3 separate regions of the Homo sapiens genome follow, and regions 1 and 3 are each linked to region 2. The links come from fine-mapping of genetic effects on gene expression. A gene starts in region 2. Each other region holds a variant in brackets. All regions are shown on one strand. Distances are from middle to middle.

Region 1 (8,000 bases), 59 kb before region 2:
CATATTGTTTCTATATGTCATTTGCTTTATGTGCATTTTTTTATGAATAAAATATATTAAAAAGTATGGCTTATTCTTAGGATACAAAATCAATGTGCAAAAATCACAGTCATTCCTATACACCAATAATAGACAAACAGAGAGCCAAATCATGAGTGAACTCCCATTCACAATTGCTACAAAGAGAATTAAATGCCCAGGAATACAACTTACAAGGGATGTGAAGGGCCTCTTCAAGGAGAACTACAAAACACTGCTCAAGGAAATCAGGGCACAAACAAATGGAAAAACATTCCATATTCATAGATAGGAAGAATGTATATTTTGAAAATGGCCATAGTGACCAAAGTAATTTATAGATCCAATAATAGCTCCATCAAGCTAACATTGACTTTCTTCACAAAATTAGAAAAAAATTACTTTAAATTTCATATGGAACCAAAAAAGAGCCTGTATAGCCAAGACATCCTAAGTCAAAAGAACAAAGCTGGAGGTATCATGCTACCTGACTTCAAACTATACTTCAACTCTACAGTAACTAAAACAGCATGGTACTGGTACCCAAACAGATATATAGAACAATAGAACAGAACAGAGGCCTCAGAAGTAACGTCACAAATCTACAACCATCTGATCTTTGACAAACCTGACCAAAAAAAACAATGGGGAAAGGATTCCCTATTTAATAAATGGTGTTGGGGAAACTGGCTAGCCATATGCAGAAAACTGAAAGTGGACCCCTTCCCTACACCTAATACAAAAATTAACTCAAGATGGACTAAAGACTTAAACATAAGACCTAAAACCATAAAAACCTTGGAAGAAAACCTAGGCAATACCATTCAGGACATAGGCATGGGCAAAGACTTCATGACTAAAACACCAAAAGCAATGGCAACAAAAGACAAAATTGACAAATGGGATCTAATTAAACTAAAGACCTTCTGCACAGCAAAAGAAACTATCATCGGAGTGAACAGGCAACCTATAGAATGGGAGAAAATCTCTGCAATTTATCCATCTGACAAAGGGCTAATATCCAGAGTCTACAGGGAACTTAAACAAATTTACAAGAAAAAAAAAACATCAAAAAGTGGGTGAAGGGTATGAATAGACACTTCTCAAAAGAAGACATTTATGTGGCCAAAAAACATGGAAAAAAGCTCATCTTCACTGGTCATGAGAGAAATGCAAATCAAAACCACAATGAGATACCATCTCACACCAGTTAGAATGGCGATCATTAAAAAGTCAGGAAACAACAGATGCTGGAGAGGATGTGGAGAAATAGGAAAGCTTTTACACTGTTGGTGGGAGTGTAAATTAGTTCAACCACTGTAGAAGACAGTGTGATGATTCCTCAAAGATCTAGAACCAGAAATGCCATTTGACCCAGTAATCCCATTACTGGGTATATACCCAAAGGATTATAAATCATTGTACCATAAGACACATGCACATGTATGTTTACTGCAGCAGTATTCACAATAGCAAAGACTTGGAGCCAACCCAAATCCTCATCAGTGAGAGACTGGATAAAGAAAATGTGGCACATATACACCATGGAATACTATGCAGCCATCAAAAGGGATGAGTTCATGTCTTTTGCAGGGACATGGATGAAGCTGGAAACCATTCTTAGTAAATTAACACAAGAACAGAAAACCAAACACTGCATATTCTCTCATAAGTGGGAGGTGAACAATGAGAACACATGGACACAGGGAGAGGAACATCACACACCAGGGCCTGTTGAGGGGTGGGGAGCTAGGGGAGGGATAGCACTAGTAGAAACATCTAATGTAGATGATGGATTGTTGGGTGCAGCAAACCACCATGGCACATGTATATCTATGTAACAAACCTGCATATTCTGTACATGTATCCCAGAACTTAAATTAAAAAAAAAAAAAGTAGAGTGGTTGCTGGCTGGCAAGATGGCTGAATAGGAATAGCTCCGGTCTGTAGCTCCCAACGCGATCAACACAGAAGGTGGGTGATTTCTGCATTTTCAACTGAGGTACCCACCTCATCTCATTGGGACTGGCTAGACAGTAGCTACAGCCCATGGAGAGCGAGCTGAAGCAGGGTGGGGCATTGCCTTACCCGGGAAGTACAAAGAGTGGGGAAACTCCCTCCCTTAGCCAAGGGAAGCCGTGAGTGACTGTGCTGTAAGGAACAATGTGTTCCGGCCCAGATACTATGCTTTCCCCATGGTCTTTGCAACCCACAGACCAGGAGATTCCCTTGGGTGCCTAAATCACCAGGGCCCTGGGTTTCAAGCACAAAACTGGGCAGCCATTTGGGCAGACAATGAACTAGCTGCAGGAGTTTTTTTTCATACCCCAGTGGCACCTGGAATGCCAGTGAGACAGAACCATTCACTCCCCTGGAAGGGGGGCTGAAGCCAGGGAGCCAAGTGATCTAGCTCAGCAGATACCATCCCCACAGAGCCCAGTAAGTTGAGATTCACTGGCTTGAAATTCTCGCTGCCAGCACAGCAGTGTGAAGTCGACCTGGGACGCTGGAGCATGGTGGTGGGAGGGGCGTCCACCATTACTGAGGCTTGAGTAGGCAGTTTTCCCCTCACAGTGTAAGCAAAACCACCTGGAACTTCAAACTGGGCAGAGCCCACTGCAGCATGGCAAAGCTGCTGTAGCCAGACTGCCTCTCTAGACTCCTCTCTGGGCAGGGCATCTCTGAAAGAAAGGCAGCAGCCCCAGTCAGGGGCTTATACATAAAACTCCCATCTCCCTGGGACAGAGAACCTGGGGGAAGGGGTGGCTGTGGGCGCAGCTTCAGCAGACTTAAACGTTCCTGCCTGCTGGCTCTGAAGAGACCAGCGGATCTCCCAGCGCAGTGCTCAAGCTCTGCTAAAGGACAAACTGCCTCCTCAAGTGGGTCCCTGACCCCTGTGCCTCCTGACTGGGAGATACCTCCCAGCAGGGGTCGACAGACACCTCACACAGGAGAGCTCTGGCTGGCAATCTGGTGGGTGCCCTGCTGGGATGAAGATTCCAGAGGAAGGAACAGGCAGCAATCTTTGCTGTACTGCAGAGTCCGCTAGTGATACCCAGGCAAACAGGGTCTGGAGTGGACCTCCAGCAAACTCCAGCAGACCTGCAGCAGAGGGGCCTGACTGTTAGAAGGAAAACTAACAAACAGAAAGGAATAGCATCAACATCAACAAAAAGGATGTCCACACAAAAACCCCATCTGAAGGTCACCAACATCAAAGACCAAAGGTAGATAAATCCATGAAGATGAGGAAAAACCAGTGCAAAAAGGCTGAAAATTCCAAAAATCAGAATGCCTCTTCTCCTCCAAAAGATCACAACTCCTCACCAGCAAGGGAATAAAACTGGACGGAGAATGAGTTTGACAAATTGACAGAAGTAGGCTTCAGGAGGCGGGTAATGACAAACTCCTCTGAGTTAATGGAGCATGTTCTAACCCAATGCAAGGAAGCTAAGAACCTTGAAAAAAGGTTAGAGGAATTGCTACCTAGAATAACCATTTTAGAGAAGAACATAAATGACCTGATGGAGCTGAAAAACACAGCACAAGAACTGTGTGAAGCATACACAAATATCAGCAGCCAAATTTATCAAGCAGAAGAAAGGATATCAGAGATTGAAGATCAACTGAATGAAATAAAGCATGAATACAAGATTAGAGAATAAAGAATGAAAAGGAACAAACAAAGCCTCCAAGAAATATGGGACTATGTGAAAAGACCAAACTTACGTTTGATTGGTGTACCTGAAAGTGACGGGGAGAATGGAACCAAGTTGGAAAACACTCTTCGGGATAGTATCCAGGAGAACTTCCCCAACCTAGCAAGACAGGCCAACATTCAAATTCAGGAAATACAGAGAACACCACAAAGATACTCCTCGAGAAGAGCAACCCCAAGACACATAACTGTCAGATTCACCAAGATTGAAATGAAGGAAAAAACG[T/G]TAAGGGCAGCCAAAGAGAAAGTCGGGTTACCCACAAAGGGAAGCCCATCAGACTAACAGCAGATCTCTCTGCTGAAACCCTACATGCCAGAAGAGAGTGGAGGCCAATATTCAACATTTCTAAAGAAAAGAATTTTCAACCCAGAATTTCATATCCAGCCAAACTAAGCTTCATAAGCAAAGGAGAAATAAACTCCTTTACAGACAAGCAAAAGCTGAGAGATTTTGTCACCACGAGGCCTGCCTTACAAGAGCTCCTGAAGGAAGCACTAAACATGGAAAGGAACAACCGGTACCAGCCACTGCAAAAACATGCCAAATTGTAAAGACCATCGATGCTAGGAAGAAACTGCATCAACTAATGGGCAAAATAACCAGCTAGCATCATAATGACAGGATCAAATTCACACATAATACTATTACCCTTAAATGTAAATGGGCTAAATGCCCCAATTAAAAGACACAGACCAGCAAACTGGATAAAGAGTCAAGACCCATTGGTGTGCTATATTCAGGAGACCCATCTCACAGGCAGAGACACAATATGCTCAAAATAAAGGGATGGAGGAATATTTACCAAGCAAATGGAAAGCTAAAAAAGGCAGGGGTTGCAATCCTAGTCTCTGATAAAACAGACTTTAAACCAACAAAGATCAAAAGACAAAGAAGGCCATTACATAATGGTAAAGGGATCAATGCAACAAGAAGAGCTGACTATCCTAAAAATACGTACTCAATACAGGAGCATTCAGATTCATAAAGCAAGTTCTTAGAGGCCTATGAAGAGACTTAGACACCCACACATTAATGGGGGAGACTTTTAACACCCTACTGTCAATATTAGACAGATCAACAAGACAGAAAATTAATAAGGATATCCAGGACTTGAACTCAGGCTCTGGACCAAGTGGACCTAAGAGACATCTACAGAACTCTCTACCCCAAATCAACAGAATATACCTTCTTCTCAGCACCACATTGCACTTATTCTAAAATTGACCACATAATTGGAAGTAAAACACTCCTCAGCAAATGTGAAAGAATGGAAATAATAACAAACAGTTTCTCAGACCACAGTGCAATCAAATTAGAACTCAGGATTAAGAAACTCACTCAAAACTGCACAACTACATGGAAACTGAACAACCTGCTCCTGAATGATTACTGCATAAATAATGAAATTAAGGCAGAAATAAATAAGTTATTTGAAACCAATGAGAACAAAGACACAACATACCAGAATCTCTGGGACACAGCTAAAGCAGTGTTTGTTTAGAGGGAAATTTATAGCACTAAATGTCCACAGGAGAAAGTGGGAATGATCTAAAATTGACACGCTAATATCACAATTAAAAGAACTAGCGAAGCAAGAGCAAACAAATTCAAAAGCTAGCAGAGGACAAGAAATAACTAAGACCAGAGCAGAACCGAAGGAGATAGAGACATGAAAAACCCTTAAAAAAAAAAAATCAATGAATCCAGGAGCTGGTTTTTTGAAAAGATTAACAAAGTAGATAGACCACTAGCCAGACTAATAAAGAAGGGAGAGAAGAATCAAGTAGACACAATAAAAAATGATAAAGGGGATATCACCAGTGATCCCACAGAAATACAAACTACCATCAGAGAATACTATAAACACCTCTATGAAAATAAACTAGAAAATCTAGAAGAAATGCATACATTCCTGGACACATACACCCTCCCAAGATGAAACCAGGAAGAAGTTGAATTCCTGAATAGACCAATAACAAGTTCTGAAATTGAGGCAGTAATTAATAGCCTACCAACCAAAAAAACCCCAGGACCAGACAGATTCATAGCTGAATTCTACCAGAGATACAAGGAGGAGCTGGCACCATTCTTTCTAAAACTATTCCAAACAATAGAAAAAGAGGGAATCCTCCCTAACTCATTTTATTTGGTATCATCCTGACACCAAAACCCGGCAGAGAAACAACAAAAAAGAAAATTTCAGGCCAATATCCCTGATGAATATTGATGCAAAAATCCTCAATAAAATACTGGCAATCCAAATCCAGCAGCACATCAAAAAGCTTATCCACCATGATCAGGTCAGTTTCATCCCTGAGATGAAAGCCTGGATCAACATACGCACATTAATAAACGTAATCCATCACATAAACAGAACCAATGACAAAAACCACATGATTATCTCAATAGATGCAGAAAAGGCCTTTAACAAAATTCAACACCCCTTCATGCTAAAAACTCTCAATAAGCTAGGTATTGATGGACCGTATCTCAAAATAATAAGAGCTATTTATGGCAAACCCACAGCGAATATCATAATGAATAGGCAAAAGCTGAAAGCATTCCCTTTGAAAACCAGCACAAGACAGGGATGTCCTTTCCCACCACTGCTATTAAACATAGTAGTGGAAGTTCTGGCCAGGGCAATCAGGCAAGAGAAAGAAATAAAGCGTATTCAAATAGGAAGAGAGGAAGTCAAACTGTGTCTTTTTGTAGAGGACATGATTGTATATTTAGAAAACTCCATCATCTCAGCCCAAAATCTCCTTAAGCTGATAAGCAACTTCAGTGAAGTCTCAGGATACAAAATAAATGTGCAAAAATCACAGGCATTCCTATACACCAATAATAGACAAACAGAGAGCCCAAACATGACTGAACTCCCATTCACAATTGCTACAAAAGGAGTAAAATAGCTAGGAATACAAGTCACGAGAAATGTGAAGGACCCCTTCAAGGAGAACTACAAATCAACGCTCAAGGAAATCAGAGAGGACACAAATGGAAAAACACTCTATGCTCATGGATCAGAAGAATCAATATCATGAAAATGGCCATACTGACCAAAGTAATTTATAGATTCAATGCTATCCCCAACAAGCTAACATTGACTTTCTTCATAGAATTAGAAAAAACTACTTTAAATTTCCTATGGAACCAAAAAAGAGCCCATATAACCAAGACAATCCTAAGCAAAAAGAACAAAGCTGGAGGCATCAGGCTAGCTGACTTCAAACTATACTACAAGGCTACAGTAGCCAAAACAGCATGGTACTGGTACCAAAACAGATATATAGACCAATGAAGCAGAACAGAGGCCTCAGAAATAATGCCACACATCTACCATCTGATCTTTGACAAATCTGACCAAAAAAGCAATGGGGAAAGGATTCCCTATTTAATAAATGGTGTTGGGGAAACTGGCTAGCCATATACAGAAAATTGAAAGTGGACCCCTTCCTTACACCTTATACAAAAATTAACTCAAGATAGATCAAAGACTTAAATGTAAGACTGAAAACCATAAAAACCCTAGAGGAAAACCTGGGCAATATCATTCAGGACATAGGCATGGGCAAAGACTTCATGACTAAAACACCAAAAGCAATGGCAACAAAAGACAAAATTGACAAATGGGATCTAATTAAACTAAAGACCTTCTGCACAGCAAAAGAAACTATCATCAGAGTGAACAGGCAACCTACAGAATGGGAGAAAATTTCTGCAATTTATCCATCTAACAAAGGACTACTATCAAGAAGCTACAAAGAATTTAAACAAATTTACAAAAAAAAAAACAAAAAACAACCCCATCAAAAAGTGGGCAAAGGATATGAACAGACACTTCTCAAAAGAAGACATTTATGTGGGCAATAAACATGAAAAAAAAGCTCATCATCACTGGTCGAAATGCAAATCAATACCACAATGAGATGCCATTTCATGCCAGTTAGAATGATGACCATTAAAAACTCAGGAAACAATAGATGCCGGAAAAGATGTGGAGAAATAGGAAAGCTTTTACGCTGTTGGTGGCAGTGTAAATTAGTTCAACCATTGTAGAAGACAGTGTGGTGATTCCTCAAGGATCTAGAACCAGAAATACCATTTGACCCAGCAATCCCGTTACTGGGTATGTACCCAAAGGATTATAAATCATTGTACCATAAAGACACATGCACACGTATGTTTACTGCAGCACTATTCACAATAGTAAAGATTTGGAGCCAACCCAAATGCCCATCAATGATAGACTGGATAAAG
Region 2 (11,207 bases):
AAGCCAACATTCAGATCCTTGGTTCCTTGTCTAGGTGTGATCTCAGCACTCCAGAGGGAATCCTAAGCTTCATTTTACATAGTTATAGAATACATTTATTGCTGGTATTAAAATATGAAATCTTTCAATGTATTTTTATCTTCAAATGTAAAGATGTTTGGCTGCTTAGACTTTAGGTAGAAAGAAATTCAAAAATATTTTCTTTGAAAGTTAAAATCTGAAACACTATGCAAGTAAATCTGAAATCATTAAGCATGTAAGTTCAATGAGTTTAAAAACATGAAAGTTTTACTTAAAGCAAAATACTTCTTTAGAAATTATGTTACTGTGATGTCCAGGTTTTTTATTTTAAACTGTTTAATCCTGTCCTCTTATACACTTACAAAAATATACTGAACAAAAAGAGAATTCAAAAATTTGTTTAGAATTACTTCTTTGTAAATATTACATAAATATTCATGTAGTCAAAAGACAGTATCATGTAGAAAACTGCATCATATACATGTTGTGATATATGTTCGTGTATGTACAAATATGTATACGCATACATGTACATATGTGTCAACTACCATTTTTCTTTTAATCAAAATTTTAAAGTACTGCATACACATATACCTACATAATAGATATATAAAAGTACTATTAGAACAAAGCTGTTTCCTCAAAGCTAAGCAGTTAAGGAACAATAGTAGCACTGTCCTCAAGATTTTTATGACTTATGTCTAATACTGAAAGTGTTAGTCAAAGAGTATGCAATTATAGTACCCAACCACATTCCATTTTGAGTATCATAAATAAAAACATATTGTTAAAATGTCATCATATATTTTAAATTATATGGAAATATCACCATTTCTTATAAGAAACAAGGAATAATTGAAATCTATACAATATTAGATGGTCTCCATTTACAATTAAACCAATAATAAAGGATCAGGGGAAAGGAGCCTACCTTCCATTGCCCTCTTAAAGAAGACCTTACAGCTCCCACAGGTAAGGACACCATAATGACAGCCTGATGCTTCATCCCCACAGATTAAACAAATCTTCTGAGGTAATGACTCGAAGCTGTATTGTGGGCTCTGGCTGGCTTCTGAATCCGGCCTTGAAATGCAAAACAAAGTACTCCATTTATTTTTAAGTGCACCACTATCTAATACTAAAGGTTTCTTAAACCAGTATTAACAGGGTGAAAGGAGATTTTAAAAACAGAACTGTATATATACACTTGAAAGACATGCAAACTAAACTTGGTAATAGACTATCCGTAACTGGATTCACCATACTTGCAAATGATTAGCCATTCATCAGTAGCACCAATATAAAAGAACAATAATTAGTGTATAATATTATGTCCTAGAAAGTTAAAGTCGGTTAAAAGGAAATCTTTCTACAAAACTCTTTATATAGAAACAATTTAGTCTTTGACAAATGAAATGTTATGTCCTTCCTGTCTGTATGCTGGGTCAAAACAAATATGGTTTGGCTTTAAAAGTTCGATGGTACTTTGCAATGTTTTGGTTTTGAGTTTTTAAAACACAACCCTGTAATCATTGCTTACTTAAGCAAGTATATGTTTGTCATTTTAAAGTATTGTCCAATACACTGACACTGTTTTGCCTATTCACAACATAAGATTCCAAACAGAGCATTCTTTTTTTACATTCCATTACTTCAGTATGCAAAGTAGTGTTTTTTAAACCTGTATATAAAAAAAATTGTAGTGAATAGCAAGCAATAATAAGAAAACGGTGCAATGCAGTGACAGGCGTTTAAATCCACAGTTTAAACATTTCCCACGTGAACTTAATTTTAATCTTGAGATTCTTAAGAAAACTGAGCCACTGAAGTGTTCAAATCCCTAAGATGGTGCTGCTTTCGGTTCTGGCCGGCCACCTCTCAAGTCCCACCCCTCCCGGGGGAACGGTGCCTTAACTCCTCTCCAAGACAAGCACTCCTGGTAAACGTCCTTCTTCTAAGAAAGAAGCATTTCATAAAGCCCCCAACTCGCCGCGCACTTTCTGCCCCACTGGGCTACAGCGGACCTAGTGTGACGCTGCACGTTTTAAATCGGGGTTGGTTCTGCTTCGGAATCTGGAAGATTCGGAAAGTTAAAAAACAAACAAAAAAACAGCTTTCAGGGAGGCACGCCCCAAAAATAGTATATTCTGCGCCCACCTTCGTGTCCCCAAGAGTGAGGAGAGGAGGGAAGAAGAAGGGAGGCAACTGCCCCTGTGCTGTGTCCCGCTGCCCACCCTCTCCGGCCGCCCCGGGGAGCGCAGCGGTGCGCTGGGGCTGGGGCTGAGGGTTGGCGGCCGCCGCCGCCAACGGAACCGCTACTCCCGGACGCGCTGGGCGTGCCCCGTCCCGGGCCCTCACCTCAGGTAGTTGAGATAGGGCGGGTAGACCTGCGGCAGGCCCTCCTTGAGCACGGCGGCCTGGTAGCCGAGCTGCGGGAGCCCGTTGAGGCCGAGTGCAGGGTAGAGCGCGGGGGCCGCCCCGGCGGCGGCGGCAGAGGCGGAGGTGGAGGGCAGGCCGTCCCGCGGGAGCAGGCAGCCGCTCGCGCCCGGCGCCTTGCAGGGCGGCGGCGCGAACGGGCCCTGCTGGGGCGGCGCGCCCTCCGCTTTGTACAGGATGCACTCCAGGGTCGACCCCGAGGAGGACGCAGACGAGACTGAGGCACTGGCGGGTGCGGCCGTCACCGCCGCTTCCCCGGGTCTGGATGGGGTCGCTCGCGGCGGCAGCGGGGGCGGTGGCCCCAACGGGAAATCCGGGAAGGCTGCGGGGTTGGCACCGGCCACAAGGTAGGAACGCGGGGAGCGCGCGGAGGCCTCCGCGCCTTCCTCCTCCTCCTTTATCTTTAGAGCGGGCGGCTGGAAGTCGCTATAGAGAGGGTACGCGTCGTCCTTGGGCTCGGCGTCGGGCGGGTACGCGCAGTCGGGGAAGTCGCCTACAGCGACCGGGGTGGACGAGGCACAGGGTGAACTCCGCGGCGGGGCAAAGGCGCTGGCAGCCCCGGCCCCGCCGTCGTAACTTTCGTCTTCCAGCAGCTGCCGAGTGCGGGCTGCCAATAAGGCGTGATTGAGAGGCAGGATAGGCACGTGGATGAAATCCATCACCGTGGTGGCCAGCGGGGAGCGCCCGGGCGCCATCGGCGCGTCCTGCTCCACCAGGGCGACCCTGGGCGCTGAGAAGCGGGAATCTTCCTTGGGGACCAGGGCGACGCCTCCTGCTGCCGCCCCCGGCGGGACAGCCGCGGCTCCTCCTCCAGCCGCCGCGCCACCCAGAGCCCGAGGTTTGCCCTTCAGAAGCGGACCCGCAGACTCCTCGGACTCAGAGCCATCCTCCTCCTCAACCTCCACCGCAGCGGCCTGCGGAGACGGCTTCACTGGGGCCCCGGACCAGTGAGGGCTCTCAGAGGCCGGGAGCAGCAGCTGCCGGGCTGGTGACAGGCCCCGGGGCAGCACTTTATGGGCAGCTGCCGTCCCGGAGCTGTCTCCAACCTTGCACCCGGACCGGCTCATGAGCGGGGACAACACCCGCTGGGTGGCGGGGGCAGCCGGTGGATCTTCGGGAAGTTCGGGGCCAAACAGGCACCAAGAGCTGGTGACCTCGCAGGCGGGAGGGCTGGGTTGGCTCTGCCCGGGACCTGAGGGCGCCAACAGAGTGTCCAAGACACTGTCCAGCAGTCCGCTGTCCTTTTCTGGGGGACTAGAACTGCTGCCTCCAGCACCCCTTGTAGCTTCAGCTCTGGAATATGCGCCCTCCACGTCCGACAGCGACTGCTGGTCCTGCGTCTTTTCGTCGGAGGGGTCCTGTCCCTGGCAGGGCCGAGGGAAGAGTAGCCCGTCCAGGGAGATAGGTATGGCCGAAACTTCAGGCAAGGTGTCCGAGGTCTGGCTCCCCGGGAACGGACCTGCGGCTGGGCGACACAGCAGTGGGGATCCGACCTCGGGGGAGGGCGGGCCGCCCGCCACGTGGGGAGCCCGGGGACCCTTTGCCTTCAGCTCAGTCATGACGACTGGACTCCCCTTTTCTCCTCCCCCGTCTCCAGGAGGAGGGAAAAGGGAAGGAGGAGGGGGTTTCGGGAATATAGGGGCAGAGGGAGGAGAAAGTGGGTGTTGAATGTGGCTGGACCGGAGGGATCTCCACCTCCTGGGTCGGGGGCGGGGGAGGGCGGCGCTGGTCAGCTCCTGCCCTTGGCCTCCATCCTGTCGTCAGGGGAACTGTGGCTGTCGTTTGTCCCAGCGAGCGGCAAGTGGGGAGCGCAAGAAAAAGTAGTAATTGTTAGGAGATCTCGTCTCCTAACTCGGGGAGTTCTCCAAGAGAGTTCTCCAACTTCTGTCCGAGGACTGGAGACGCAGAGTACTCACAAGTCCGGCACTTGAGTGGCTGCGGCTGCGACGGCAATTTAGTGACACGCGGCTCCTTTATCTCCCGACTTTTTCTCTGGCATCAAACTCGTGCATGCTGTGAAGCTCTCAGTCCCTCGCTGAGTTCCACTGCCCCCTCACTAAAACCCTGGGGCTAGTCGGACCTCTCGGTACAGCCCATTCCCAGGAAGGGTCGGACTTCTGCTGGCTCCGTACTGCGGGCGACAGTCATCTCCGAAGATCTCAGATCCCAGTAGTGCGGGAGCACTAGCCGCCTCGGGTTGTAGATTTCACTCAAATGACAAGTGAAGCTAGTTCTCATTGAGAATGCCACCCACACGCACAAATACAACAAGGCTTACCCCGATTAGTGACAGCTGTGGACTGGCCAGACAGCTTTCTAACAACGCCTCCTCCTCTAGGGAGGCCCCGCCCAAAGCCCCTCCCTACCCCAATTACCGGTAGGATCTGAAACTCTGGAGTTGGCATTTCCACCCGTTATTCTGAATGCTACTCTCAATAGCAGGTTCTTTGGGATGGAACCTCATAAGCATATTACGTTTTGTTTTGCAAATTAAGAATTATGCCCTATCTAATTGGAAAAATGAATAGATTCTATCAGAAGTAGAATTTTTGTCACCATTTTAAGATTTCAGTTTTGTAAAGATTTAACACAGAGGAAGACATTTGGCTACATTATCTTTTAAAATAATAAATGTATCAAGGACGATACTAAATAAGAGATTCTCTCCCTTATGAGTTCCATAAAAGTGAATGCTTTCAAGTTTCTCCTGCTGCGACCAACATGTCCTGCTCCTCTTGAGTATCCTCAGCGTGACAAAGAAATTTGGGAGTGGGAGATGGTAACACCTCTGTATCTATGATGGAAGTTTGGATGTTGTGTGCCACACTTCGATTTGTCTTAAGGAATGTGTTCCAATTTTTAGTAAATAGCACTTTAAGGAAAGTTTCCTTTAGCTCCAGCTTATACAGTGTGCTACATCATAACATCCTCAGTAGAGATGTTGAACAGTACTTTTTACCCTAAATATTCTTAGTCTGAAAAGTAATTATCTTTGAGCTTATAAAATGGATCCCCGCTAAATTCATGAAGTCAGTAGAAAAAGGGAAGAATATTGCAATATATATTTTAGATACACAGTCATAAACTGTATTTGACCCAAGACCATTGGGTATTTTAACATCATCTTAAATATACCTTGTTCAAAACAGAGTGAATGATTTGCAAATTTTCTTGTAGGACCTCAAGGTCTAGCTGTGCTAATGACTCATAGTTTATCTCAACCATGTATAAAGAATGCAGAAGACTCCAGAAGGTGGGGGAGCCACTAGAGGTAAGGAGCCTGGACCCCTCGATCATCTGGGGAGGGGCTATATGAGTGAGAAACAAACCTTTATCATGTTAGGTTACTAGGATTTGGAGTTGGTTGTTCTAGTAAATAGTTTACTCTGATTAATTTTAGATATGTGGAAGTTAGGCAGATAGAGGAAAGGTAAAGAGAATTCTGGGAAGCAGGTATAGAATGTTCACCGGGCATCAAATGGCAGGATATAATATGGCAACTGCAAGGGGACCATTATGAATAGAACAGGAGCAAGTGTGGGCACAGAAGTATATGAGACTAGAGAAGTAAACTAATTTATTAATATCATTATTGTTGTTTTCAGGCTTTCTCTTTCCAGCCTATCTTAAAACAGTTACCATGCTTTATTGAGGTGTAATTCCAGTATCATACAGCTCACTCAAAGTATCAGTTCATTGATTTTTCATGTACTCAGAGTTGTGCAACCATCAGCACTATTAATTTTGTAACATGAGTATGACTCTAAAATCTCAATACCCACTAGCAGTTATTCCACATTTCCGCCTAAATCTCCCAGCAGCCACTAATATGCTTTTTGTACCTGTGATTTGGCTATTTTGGATCAAGGTTCATCCATGTTCCACATGAATCAGTACTTCACTCCTTCACTCCTTTTTATTGACAAATAATATTTCATTGTATGGATAAACCACATTTTATTTATCCATCTCTATCAGTTGTTGGACATTTGGGTTGTTTACACCTTTTGGCTACCATGAAAAATCCTGCTAATGAACATTCATGTACAAGTTTTTGTGCAGCGTATATTTTCCTTTCTCCTGGATATATGCATAGGAGTGGAATTGCTGGTTCATATGGCAACTCTAGGTGTGGTCTTTGGAGTAACTGCCAGACTATGGTTCAAATGATTGTACTTCTTACATTTCCACCAGCAGTGAATAAGGGTCCTAGTTTCTTCACATCTTTGACAACATTTTTTATCTGTCTTTTTTGTTATAGCCCCCCAAGTGTGTGAAGTGGTATCTCACTGATTTATTTATATTTTCCTGATGGCTAATGCCACACAGTGTATAGAATTTGTAAAATCAGGACAGCATTGCCAGGTAGTCTTGTAAGCCTTTTACCTGTGTTAACTGTAATCCTTCAACAGTCTCACAAAATAGGTACTGTTATCCCAATTTCATAGTTGGGAAAACTGAGGCACAAGGTTACCCAGTATTATAAAGTTAAGTACTGTAACCCAAACCCAAGACATCAAATGACAGCCTTCTTAGGAGTGTGATTTTAAATGTCAGATGCCATATAATTTGATTTTCCGGTCGCTGCTGTAAAATTGGCACTTGGCCTCATTTTAAATCTGACAAACTATATTTGGCTTGATTTTGGTTGGTTATAATAATTCCCTTGTCAGAATGTCTGGGGAGGTTGTTTCCAAAAGATTGAAAATCTTGAAGTGGGAAAACAACAATAAAGATGTCCAGCATGTCCTAAATCACCATTATTCCATAAATTTTGATGCTGGGTGATTAGCATTTTTGGCACAGGAACTTCCCAAATGTATGAATCTTTGAATGAACAAAATTCACTGATTAAATTCAGGTGTGATGGGGCTAACTTCAAATATTCCTGAAGACTGTTTTTGGAGAAGAGGATTTAAATGTGGAAGTATTTTTTCTATAGTTTGGGGAAAAAAACCACTTTATCAAGATATAGTTGTCATATAATAAGCTGCATATATTTAAATTGTATAATTTGTTGTTAGACCTGTGAAACTAAAATGATAAACATACCCTTTGCCTCCAAAAGTTTCCTCATGCCATTTTTTAAATCCCTTCATACTGTTCTGTCCCATCCCCTTCCCCTAGTACTAATCACCACTTTCTGGCAAGCCACTAATCTGCTTTCTGTCACCAAATATTAGGTTTTTAAAAATATTTATATCTGATTTATTAAACATTAAATTATACATTTGCATATGCCTTTTAGGTCTGTTTGCTTTAGATGTTTTATTAATAGATTTTACTTTTGGGAAACGATTTTGGATTTACAGAAAAATTGAGCAGATAATATAGAGAATGCTCATATATCATTTGTACAATTTTCTCTGTTAGCATTTTAAATTAATAGGGTACATTTGTTACAATTAATGAACTAATACTGATAAATTGTTATTAACTAATATTCATAGTTTATTTAGATTTTCTTCATTTTCACTTAATGTCCTTTTTCCTTTCCAGGATTCCATCCAGGACACCACATTTAATTGTTATGATGTCTTGTGCTCCTCTTGGCTGTGAGAGTTTCTCAGATTTTCCTTGTATTTGATGACCTTGACAGTCCTTAGGAGTACTGGTGAGGTATATTGCAAGATGCCCTTCTATTGGGATTTGATGTATCCTCATGAGTAGACTAGGGTTTTGGGTTTTGGCGGGGTGGAAATCAAAGAGGTAATGTACTGTATTTATTACATCATATGAAGGGTACATATTGTCAACATGACTTATGACTGTTAATGTTGTTCTCCATCACCTGGCTGAAGTAGTGTTTGTCAGGTTTCTCCATTGCATAGTTACTCTTTTTTCCCTCTTTGCATACTCTGTACTCTTTGGAAGGAAATCATTATGAGTCACTTAAGGAAGTGTGGGGGAGTAGGGAGTTATGCTAGCCCTCCTTTGGAGTGGAGTATCTACATAATTTATTTGGAATTCTGTGAGGAAGATTTGCTTCTTCTCCCCCATTTACTTCTTTATTCAGTCTTTTCTTTGTATGGATTCATGAATACTTTGTTGCTCAAATTTTTCCAGTTTTTGGCACTGGGGGCTTTTTCAGTTGACTCTTGTGCTCCTTGACCCACTCTCTGTATTGTGTGTATGTGTGTGTATGTGTGGACTTTCCTACTTTCTGGTATTACAAGATGCTACAGACTCATCAGACTCATCTTGTATATTTCCTGCCCCAGTCGTAGAATCAGCCATTTATCCAAGGAAGTTTGAGACTTTTTATTTGAAACTGGTATAGAAATGAAGATCTGGGTGCCAAATAAATTAGGTTTTATTTCTTAGAATTGTATATAATATAGTGTATCTTTTTTTCATTTGGTTTCTCTCACTCAGCATAATTATTTTGAGATTCAGCTAAATTATAGTATGTATCAATAGTTAATTCTTTTTATTCTTTTTATTTATATACTATAGTTTGTTTATCCATTTAACTGTGGATAAATATCTGAGTTGTTTCCAATTTTTTTGGTATTATAAATAGAGCTACTATGAAAATGTTGTACAAGTCTTTGTATGAACATGTGTTTTCATTTTTTCTGGGTAAATACCTAGCAGTGAAATGGCTGGATAAATTAGTAGGTGCTGTGATATGAGTGTTTGTGTTCTCCCCAAATCTGTGTGTCAAAACCCAATCACCAATGTGATAGTCTTAGTAGGAGGAGGTGTTGGGGAGTGATTAGGTCATGGAGCACTGCCCTGCCCCTTCTACCATGTGAGTACACAATAAGAAGTTGCCATCTAGGAGCTACAAAGCAGGTCTTCACCAGACATTGAATCTGTCACCTTTATTGTGGACTCCCAGCCTCCTGAACTGTGAGAAATAAGTTTCTGCTGTTTATAAGCTACCTAGTTCATGGTATTTTGTTATAGCAGCCCAAATGGACCAAGACAATACATGTACATTTAACCGTCAAACAATTTTCCAAAGTGATTGTATCATTTTACATTTCCACCCAGTATATTAGAGTTCTAATTCTTCCAAAAGCTGGACAACAACTGATATAGTCAGCATTTTTAATTTTACCAATTCTAACAAGTAGATAGTGGTATCTCATTATGGTTTCAATGTGCATTTCATTAATGACTAATGATGTTGATCATGTTTTCATGTGCTTATTTGTGATATTTATATATTCCTCTTCTGTGTGTCTGTGTCTGTTCAAATCTTTTGTTTGCTTTTTTTTAAAAAATTGAATTGTTTTGTTATTGTTGAATTTTCAGAGTTCTTTATGAATTCTGTTAGAAGTCCATTGTCATATATGGGATTTGAAAGTAGTTTTTTCTAGCCTGTGGCTTGTCTTTAAGTTCTCTTAACAGGATCTTTTGAAGAGCAGATGTTTTTAATATTGATAAAGCCTCTTTATTTACATTTTTATGAATTATGCTTTTGGTGTCATAACTGAATATTCCTTGCTAAACCCAAGGTCATAAATGTTTTCTGTCATGTTTTCTTTTGGCTTTATAGTTTTAGGTTTTACATTTATATCTGTGATACATTTTAAAGTTACTTTTTAATATGGTATAAGGTCTAGATCAAAATTCACTTTTTTGCATGTGGATATCCAGTTGTTTCAGCGCCATTTGCTGAAAAGAATACCCCTTCACTAATTGCCTTTGCACCTTTGTTGAGAATTAGTTATTCAAATATGTGGAGATCTGTTTCTGTACCCTCCATTCCATTTAACTGTATTATTGGACAGTTTTTATGTCAATACATTTTCTTGATTGATGTAGCTGTAATTTTTTAAGCTGTTATTTTTTAAATCCCTCTGTATAAATGATAGCATTCTTCCTCTAACCTTCCAGCCCTGGGGGTGAGGAGGGGCAGCCCACAGCTGTTTGAGGGAAGAGACAGGATCGAAGGTGTGCTCTGAAGCTACAGATTGCATGAGAGGCAACCCATAAAGTTTCTAAGCAGAGTGGTAACAGTGGCCCCCCACTTCTGTTTCTGAACTACAGCTCTCAGCGTGTTGGTGACTTTGAACCCCCTCCCCAGAAATGGAAATGCCAAAATGGAAGAGCCCTCAGCCACCTAGCTCCCTTCCCAGTAGGACAGAGTTAAAGGCTAGACCATCTTCCCTCCTGGGTGGAGCCCCCCTTCCCCCCACGGATACTTAATGTACTAGTGCTCCAACTTTATTCTTCTTTTTCAAAATTGTTTTGTCTAGGTCATTTGCATTTTCATGTAAATGTTAGAAACAGTTTGTTAATATCTGCAAAAAAAACCCTTCTGCAATGTTGATTAGGATTGAGCTGAAATTATAGATGAATTTGGAGAGAACTGGCTTCTCACTAAAATTAAGTCTTCCAACCCATACAGGTAATATATCTCTCCTTCTCTCAGCAATGTTTTCAAGCTTTCGGTGTACAGGTCTTTCACATCTTTTGTCAGATTTCTCTCCAATTATTTCATATTTTTGCTGGTATTTTGGATGATGTATATATTAGCTTTCCATTGCTGAGTCAGGAAGTACCACAAACTTACTAGCTTGAAAGAGCACTCAGTTATTATCTTACAGTTTCCATGGGTCAGGAGTCTGGGCATCGGTTGGATGGATCCATTGCTTAGGGCTCACATGGCTGCAATCAGTGGATTAGCCAACACTGCGTTGTCATCTATGGCTTAGGGTGCCCATCTAGACTTATTCAGGTGACTGGCAGGCAGTGTTCAGTTCCTGGCAGCTGTAGAACTCATGTGACTTTCATCT
Region 3 (8,000 bases), 33 kb before region 2:
TTTAGTCTCTCCAGTCCAGTGATGTCCTGCTCTCTCATTATTTTTCCATCCAAAAAAGTTCCAGCACCAAAAAAAGGAACCCTAGCTCACTCTAGATTCTCCCTGAATACATTCCCCTTTTTTTGGTCCTCAAAGTTGTCGAAAACATCATCTACATTTGCTGTTTCTACCTAACTTCCTTTATTCCTATGTGGTAATTTGACTTGTATATTCACTATTCTTATAAAATGGCTTAACATCATCAAATATTTTTTCATTCCTAAATGCTGTGAATGCTTTCCTGACCTGAATCATTTGCTTCAGGTAATTTCTTTCCCCACCTGTCCCATTGATTCATATTTTGGGGCCTCTCTTTTCTGACTCTTGACCTGTCTTTCCAGCACTTCCTTTTAAATTCCCTTTGTCAACTCCTCTTACTTTGCTTATTCCTTATATGTGGTGTGCCACTGCACACACTTTGTGGGTAGTCTGTCTCATTATCTTCTGATGGTCCCAAAATCTCAATATGAGCTCTGACCTTCCAGTCATATTTCTAGGTACCTCAAACTCAATATATACAAAATACAACTAAGTGGTTATCTGTACAAATTATATCATGAATTGTATTATTAGAGAAATTATATAAGAACGTAAGGAAATTCAAAACAGAAAATAACCTACAATTTGATAATCATGCATCTATTCTCATTTTTGCTTCCTTCTTGCTATGGTTTGAATGTTTGTGTCCCCTTCAAAATTCATATTGAAACTTAATCCCCAATGTGACAATATTAAGAGGTGGGGTCTCTGCCTCCATGGATGGAATCAGTACCCTTTTAAAAGGGCTTGAGGGAGTGAATTTGGTCCTTTTTATCCTTTCTGCCATGTGAGGATGCAGCAAGGGGCGCCATCTTGGAAGAAGACAGCAAGCTTTTACCAGACATGGAATCTGTGCCACCTTGATCTTGGACTTCTCAGCCTTTAGAACCATCAGAAAATATTTCTGTATTTATAAACTACCCAGTCTAAGGTATTTTTTTATTGCAGTGGAACAGACTAAAGTATTTCCAAACTGTCTATACAAATCTAAATGGTATTTAATATCTATTTGTTAATATTTAAGTTAATGTATTTATACTTTTATAAAACTCTCATTCATTCAACAAGTATTGAGTATCTACTATATCCCAACACTATTTACTGACTAATCCATGTTTTCCCCCACTAAATTAAAATGCCATCTTAATTGCTGACACTACATTGTAGTACCGAAGAGCAAAGTTACAGAGGCCAGACTGCTTGTTCAAAGCTCAGATCTGCAACTTACTATCCACAAATAAAAATAATAAAAGAACAACAGACAATTATTAAGCACTTACTATGTGCCAGGCATTGTTATGAGCTATTGACATATATTAACTCATTTCATCATCAAAGCAACCTTTGGAGGTATTAATATTCTCATTTTATACAGAGTTAACTGAGGCATCTAGAAGTTAAATAACATGCTCAAGGTCACACAGTTAAAACATTTTAGGTTAATTATCTTGAGAGGTAGTATAGAAAGTTACTGTTTAAGTGTGAATGTCAATCTCATCACTTAGTAGCTAGATGACATTTGGCAATTAAAATGAAGATAACATTAGTACCTTGGATTGGATCTAAGGAATACACAAGCTCATGTAAGAGCTTAGAATAGTCTGGCACATAGCAAGTACTTAACAAATGTCTATTATAATTATGATTATCACACATCTAAATCTCAAATATAGTTAGATTTTTTCTAGATGTGGTCCAAGAAGTCTATATCTAGTCAAGTTATTCAGTTTTAAAGGCAACTTAAAGATATTCTCAAACTTGCATGAAATTGGGAAATAAGACCCCAGTATGCTCTTCCAAAAGATGTAATCCAGTCAACAACAGATACGTTATAGCAGACAATGTATGAGGTAGGAAGTCTGGTATGAAGAGACTGATGATAAGTACCAAATAAATTTAAACATAAGTATAAATTTAAACATGAGTATAAATAAGGAAATTATAGTTACCAAACAGAATGCAATTCTTATAAGTTTGGAAGAAAAAATGACTTAGATGTCCAATATTTAAAGTTTGAGTTGGAAGGATAATTTTTAATAATTAAGGGCACTGGCATGAAGTCACGACCTTGAGGGGTTGGCACGACTCATATCATTGTAGACTGCCTGTGACAGGCTGGAATGGCTTAAAGAAATCTGGAAGCTCAATTCACTCTAACTTTTCATCATCTTTAACATTAAGTGATGAGCCATCAAAACTGCAAAGTAGATGCATTATCATGCAAACAAAATATGGGGAGTACAGTTAAAGGTTTATCTTCTCAAGCAATGTTTTGGCTTAAAGAAATGTTGTAGCCAGCCAGTTCCAACTAGAGCCGACTAAGGGAATTTGGCATGGGGCCCAGGCATTGCCTCTGAACCATAATGCATGGCCAGGACTCAGAGCCACCAAGAATGCAATGAATGCAGTGGGAGCCACTCGCTACTTCAGGTACCTGGCTGTATATGCAGGTGAAGAAAGGTCAGGCACAAGTGCATTAGCCCTGTCACAACATTTTCCTGGAAATCTAGAAAAAGATGAAAATCTAACATAACATCAGTTGCTACCATTTTCTTCAGACAACAGCCCACAGTTTATATTCTGGTTTTGAGAAACACATCCCTGTCTAGATCCACTCACTCACTCATAAACCGTAGGTTGATGGCTCAAATTGCGTATTATTTCTTCTCCTCAGTCCAACATAACATTGTGATTCTACAACAAGTGTAAAACACGTCACTATATTAAACCACTCAGAGCATTCCATTTGCTGCCATCTTTGCTGTTTACCTACATTATCACCACCAGGAGTTATAAGACATTTAGGAACACTTATAAGCTATAAGCCACCACAAACAGGTTACATGGCATAATGATAAATAGGGGAGTTCACCCCACTAGGAGCCACTATCTAGCTCTCTCCCTTAATATATGCATCATCTGCCCCTGTTGAAACCTGGGGAGCTTAATAGAGCACTATGCTTCTTTCTCCTTGCAAAACTGATCTATTTTAGGGTGGGGAAAGCAGGGGGTGAGTTCAAACTGTTATGTCTTTTCTTTCTAATCACATACTCTTTCCCATGTTCTTTATGCTCCAGAGTACTAACATCCTTGGATTACCCCCAAACTCTCTCATGCCTCTATGACTTTCCTCCCTTCCTTCCAATTTATCAACTTAACAAAATCTCACTCGTCTTTCAAGCCTTGGCTTAACTGCTCCCCTCATCTGGTCTTACCTGACTGCTCTCATAAAGGCTTTAGACATTTCTTCTGTGTACCAACTGCACATTCAATGTATTCCTATTGTATACTTTGTGTCTATAGCTACTAGGTTCTATAAGAGTAGGAACTACTCAGTTTGATACTTTTAACTCTTGTGTAAAATACAGCTTGATAAATATTTTTTAGATAGGTGTATATACAATTATACCTATTGTTTCGCTTATATTTGTAAATATAGTTATACTCAACAGTATAAGACATATGTCACTTATTGTCATATATAGTAAATAGTCACTTGCTTCTGATTTTTTACCACCTTTTAACTTTTTTTCTTACAGAATGCTTTTTATTCAGTAATTTCTCACCTTTTTATAGTAATAGACCATAATTAAATGTGAAGTCTAACAAGATTATTTCCAAGTGTTACTCTTTTTTTTTTTTTTTTTGAGCGGAGTCTCGCTCCGTCGCTCAGGCTGGAGTGCGGTGGAGCCATCTCAGCTCACTGCAAGCTCTGCCTCTTGGATTCATGCCATTCCCCTGCCTCAGCCTCCCGAGTAGCTGGAACTACAGGCGCCCACCACCACGTCTGGCTAATTTTTTGTATTTTTAGTAGAGATGGGGTTTCACCGTGTTAGCCAGGATGGTCTCGATCTCCTGACCTTGTGATCCTCCTGCCTCGGCCTCCTGAAGTGCTGAGATTACAGGCGTGAGCCACCGTGCCCAGCCCCAAGTGTTACTCTTAATAAAAAATACTCTGTGAAAATAAAAGCACTATCAAAATGTGATTAGATCATTTTATTTGCCTAGTGACTTACAAAAATTTTAGATGACAAAATTCCACTTTAAAGGAAATAAAATATCTTTATTAGGAAATAAAATATCTTTATTAGAAACAAGAAAGGGACTTACCTGTAAAATAAGAGACCTATATTGTTTGTGTTGCTTCTCAATATGAGCACAAGTGAACATAGTTCACTTAGGTCTGAGAGAGTTCACAATTTTTCATGGCATTTTTGAAAAGAAGGGGAAAATACATAGTCAAATGGCAGGAAATAATATATGTTCAGTAGTTTAAGGAATGAAATAGTGAAAGTCAGTATGGTATGACCCACAAGTCACGGGCTTGAAGCAACATGAGCTGGTCCATATGAGGGCAATCTTTCTACCACAAACACAGAAATACTGGATAAAATATAATAGAAGCATGTTGCTTAATTTCAGTCTGGAAAAAAAGGTAGGTAAATCTCTATAAGCCAGAAAAGAAAAAAGAAATGAAAGCTGGAGGAACAAACTTAACTGGACTCTGCAGTGATCCAAAAAAGTTTCAGATACAGATATAAGAAATGCCTAAAAGATAAGAAATGGGGTTTAAAGCCCATGAGAGGATGGGATATATTACTTCAGTCCCAATGGAAGAGAGTGGCAGGGCTGAACTATATGCATAAAAATGTAGAACCTTAAAAG[A/G]CTGCCTTAGCAATGAAAACAGGGCTAGAAAACACTACACAGAAAATGCCAGGCAGCCAGGAATCTGTCCAAAATTCAGGGTGAGGACAAAAATCATTTATGCCAAAAACAACATAAACAAAATAAAATATTGGCCTTTAATGGGAGGTGAATTTTCACTATCACATGGTATAGGAACCTGGGCCAAGGAACAAAGACTGGTACAGGACCAGTGAAATTGCCAGGGTCCTTGGAGAGGCAAATGAAAAGCTTATCTGTAGGGACAGGTGTGTCCACATGCAAAAAATAAAAGATTTGTACAAGAATATTTATAGCAGCAGTGTTCATAATAGCCTCAATCTGAAAACAACCCAAATGATCACCTACAGCATAATGTGTAAACAAATGGTTTTATTTATTCAATGCATTATTATACAGCAATGAGAATAAATGTCTAGCTCCATGCAAAATGTGGATGAACTACATAAGTATAATGTTGTGTAAAATAAGCAGACATAGAAAAATACTATCTGATTCCATTAATATAAAGTTCTAAAATAGTTCAAACCAATCTATCATGTTAGAAATTGGGATGGCGGTTACTTTTGGGGAATGATTGGAAGGGGCAAAATGGAGCTTCTGGGAACCTAATGATCTTTAAATTTTTTGGTCTGGGTGATAATAACATCGTTTCATTTACCTACTGATAAGCTCTACATCTTTGAGTGCTTTTCTGAAAATATTTATCAATAAAAGTTTCTTTCTTTTAAAAACTGGCTCCAGCTAAGAGGACAACCTAGAGAGTATTGTGATCCAACAGAATCTGTGTAGGGTCAGTCAGCGGAAGTCCAGAAGCAGAGGGTCACGGTCATGTCCAGAGAGAAGAGAGGTGTCTACTGCATTACAGCATTACAGGATTACAGTTAGAGGCTCTCAGTAAAGTATCTCCATGAATCTCACCAAAGTATCCCACTAGAGGAAGAGCAGCCTGTAATCACCCACCAAACACAGATAACCCCAGTGACACTAAAATTCCTACTTGTTGTGTAAAACTGTGCTCTCTAACTTCTCTTCCCACACGTTGGCCCTGGAAGGGTCAAAATCAGCTGTCATTGGGTGAGTGTAGGCAGCATAAACAGAGAAGAAGCAGATCTTATTTGTTCTTCCCTTTAGGCTTCAAGCTCAAAGCAGTGAGTGCTGAATTGGGGCAAAGAAGAAATCTAAACTTAGAAGAGGATTTGTAAATTTGGCATAATGCTTCCCTGGGCATTTTGATTACTGATATGGTTTGGCTTTGTGTCACCACCCAAACCTCATCTTGAATTGTAATCCCATAATCCCCCCATGTTGTGGGAGGAACTCAGTGGGAGGTAATTGAATCATGGGGGTGGTTTCCCCCCATGCTCTTCTCGTGATCATCATGAGCAGTGTGATCAATCAGTGAATTCTCATGAGATCTGATGGTTTTATAAGAGTCTAGCATTTCCCCTACTGGCACTCATTCTCTCTCCTGCTGCCTTGTAAAGAAGGACATGTTTACTTCCCCTTGGGCCATGATTGTAAGTTTCCTGAGGCCTTCCCAGCCATGTGGAACTGTGAGTCAATTAAACCTCTTTCTTTTATAAATTACCCAGTCTTAGGTATTTCTTCACAGCAGCATGAGAACAGACTAATACGGTTAGTGGAATGAGATTGTTCTTCTGATTAAAATCTTTGGGACTGGCCTAAGATTTTATGCAGGAGATGGAAGAACTAGTCTACAAAGCAGGTTTTGTTGTTAGAGGTAATAATGCTGATACTAGTATTTTGAATCCACACACACACACACACACACACACACACAATACATACAGATAAAACAACTAGTAATTATTTTGATTTTGCTAGAAATACAAACATAAACCAGTAATTCTCAACTAGAGGCAATTTTGCTCCCTTCCTCACCAGGACATTTCACAATATCTGGAGACAATTTTGGTTTATGCAACTAGAGGGTAGGTATTATTGCAGAGAGGCCAAAAAGGCTAATAACATCCCATAATGCACAGGACATCCCCCCCTGCAACAATTATGTGGCCCAATAGGTCAATAGTGTGAGGTTGAGAAATCATGGTATAAACTCATGATCCCCTTACTTTTTCAAAAAGAGGTATTTTCTAGGTCTCTTCACTGAAAATGCCCAAAAGTAAAGACAACTCCAGCAGGAATTCAGATTTTCACATGTAATATAATTTTCATCTAAAACGAACCAGAGCTCCTTGGGGAAATGACTGATCCAGGACTAGGGCAGGAAATGTGCAAGTTGAGCCTGGGATGCTTTGCTGTGACAGATGATTTGCTTTTACTGAGGGCTAATAAAATTGTGTTTCATTGACCACTGATAATTCACACCAACCAAAATTAAAACCACTTGAACATCAAAAAGAACTGGTTCAAGTAATTAAAACACATTGAATATATATTTTAAAAAACATGAGTACATAATGATATGTAAGAAGAGAAAGAATGAAAGAAACAAGAGGAACTCACTGGAAACCACTGGAGATTACTAGGGCACAAACTTAACAACTTTGAAAACTGAAAATTAAAAGTAAATAATAAGTATCTGTTAGGCTTTCCATTATTAAGTGTATTTTAAGATTACCAGATTGCCTCTTGGAAGAGAGAGAGAACTATTAAAAATATTTATAGCTGATAAAATCAGAAGGGATAATAGAAATAGAGAATCATCCTTTTGCAATTCCTAATGAAATGGCCACCACTTGTCAAGTCTGAAAAGACAATTAAAATACTCCTCCATTTTCCAACTACATATCTGTGTGAGGCCACATTTCCTTCCCATGCTTCCACCAAAACAACATATTGGAACAGATTGACTGTAGATCCAGATATGAGAATCCAGCTGTCTTCTATTAAGATAGACATTAAAATGACTTATAAAAATGTAAAACAATGTCATTCTTGTCATTAAATTTTTTGGTTTGAAAAATTAGTATCTAATGGGTTTGCTGTTTTTTAAATGAGCTAATAAAAAGTTTTAAAACATTATGAGTTTTAATTTCTAACACAGTAAATACTGAGAGAGAGAATTCACGTATACAGAAGCTCTTTGGGCTTGTAGCAATTTTTAAGCACATAAGGGGGTCATGAGATCAGTGTCTGAGAACCGTTGGCCTGTGTAGGATTCTTGTCAAAACGTTTAACTGGCATATAATTATGTGGGGGAAAAATCAGACAAAGCCAGATTATGGAACTTTCTACAAAACGGCTGGCCTAGA

Which allele goes with the higher level. Alleles are on the strand shown, and positions count from the first base shown. SD is a standard deviation of normalised expression in the study named.
With allele T in place of G in region 1, the expression in esophagus muscle of the gene that starts at base 4,759 in region 2 is higher (small effect, 0.17 SD a copy in GTEx).
As copies of G replace A in region 3, the expression in tibial artery of the gene that starts at base 4,759 in region 2 goes up (small effect, 0.39 SD a copy in GTEx).

What was found. PIP is the estimated chance that this variant, and not a neighbour inherited with it, causes the effect.
Region 1: its variant is fine-mapped to the expression of PGR in esophagus muscle (GTEx, PIP above 0.99).
Region 3: its variant is fine-mapped to the expression of PGR in tibial artery (GTEx, PIP above 0.99).

What each region holds. Positions count from the first base shown.
Region 1 is chr11:101,068,099-101,076,098 of GRCh38, forward strand. All of the region lies in intron 3 of PGR (progesterone receptor), which reads right to left. Among named protein-coding and RNA genes, the nearest start is that of PGR, 58 kb to the right of the region's middle. The variant T/G (reference allele first, on the strand shown) is at 3,963.
Region 2 is chr11:101,125,055-101,136,261 of GRCh38, forward strand. It overlaps PGR (progesterone receptor), which reads right to left and starts at 4,759. Exons shown (of 8, transcript NM_000926.4): 1 at 2,380-4,759; 2 at 953-1,104. The coding sequence starts at 4,016. It also overlaps PGR-AS1.
Region 3 is chr11:101,094,071-101,102,070 of GRCh38, forward strand. All of the region lies in intron 2 of PGR (progesterone receptor), which reads right to left. Among named protein-coding and RNA genes, the nearest start is that of PGR, 32 kb to the right of the region's middle. The variant A/G (reference allele first, on the strand shown) is at 4,744.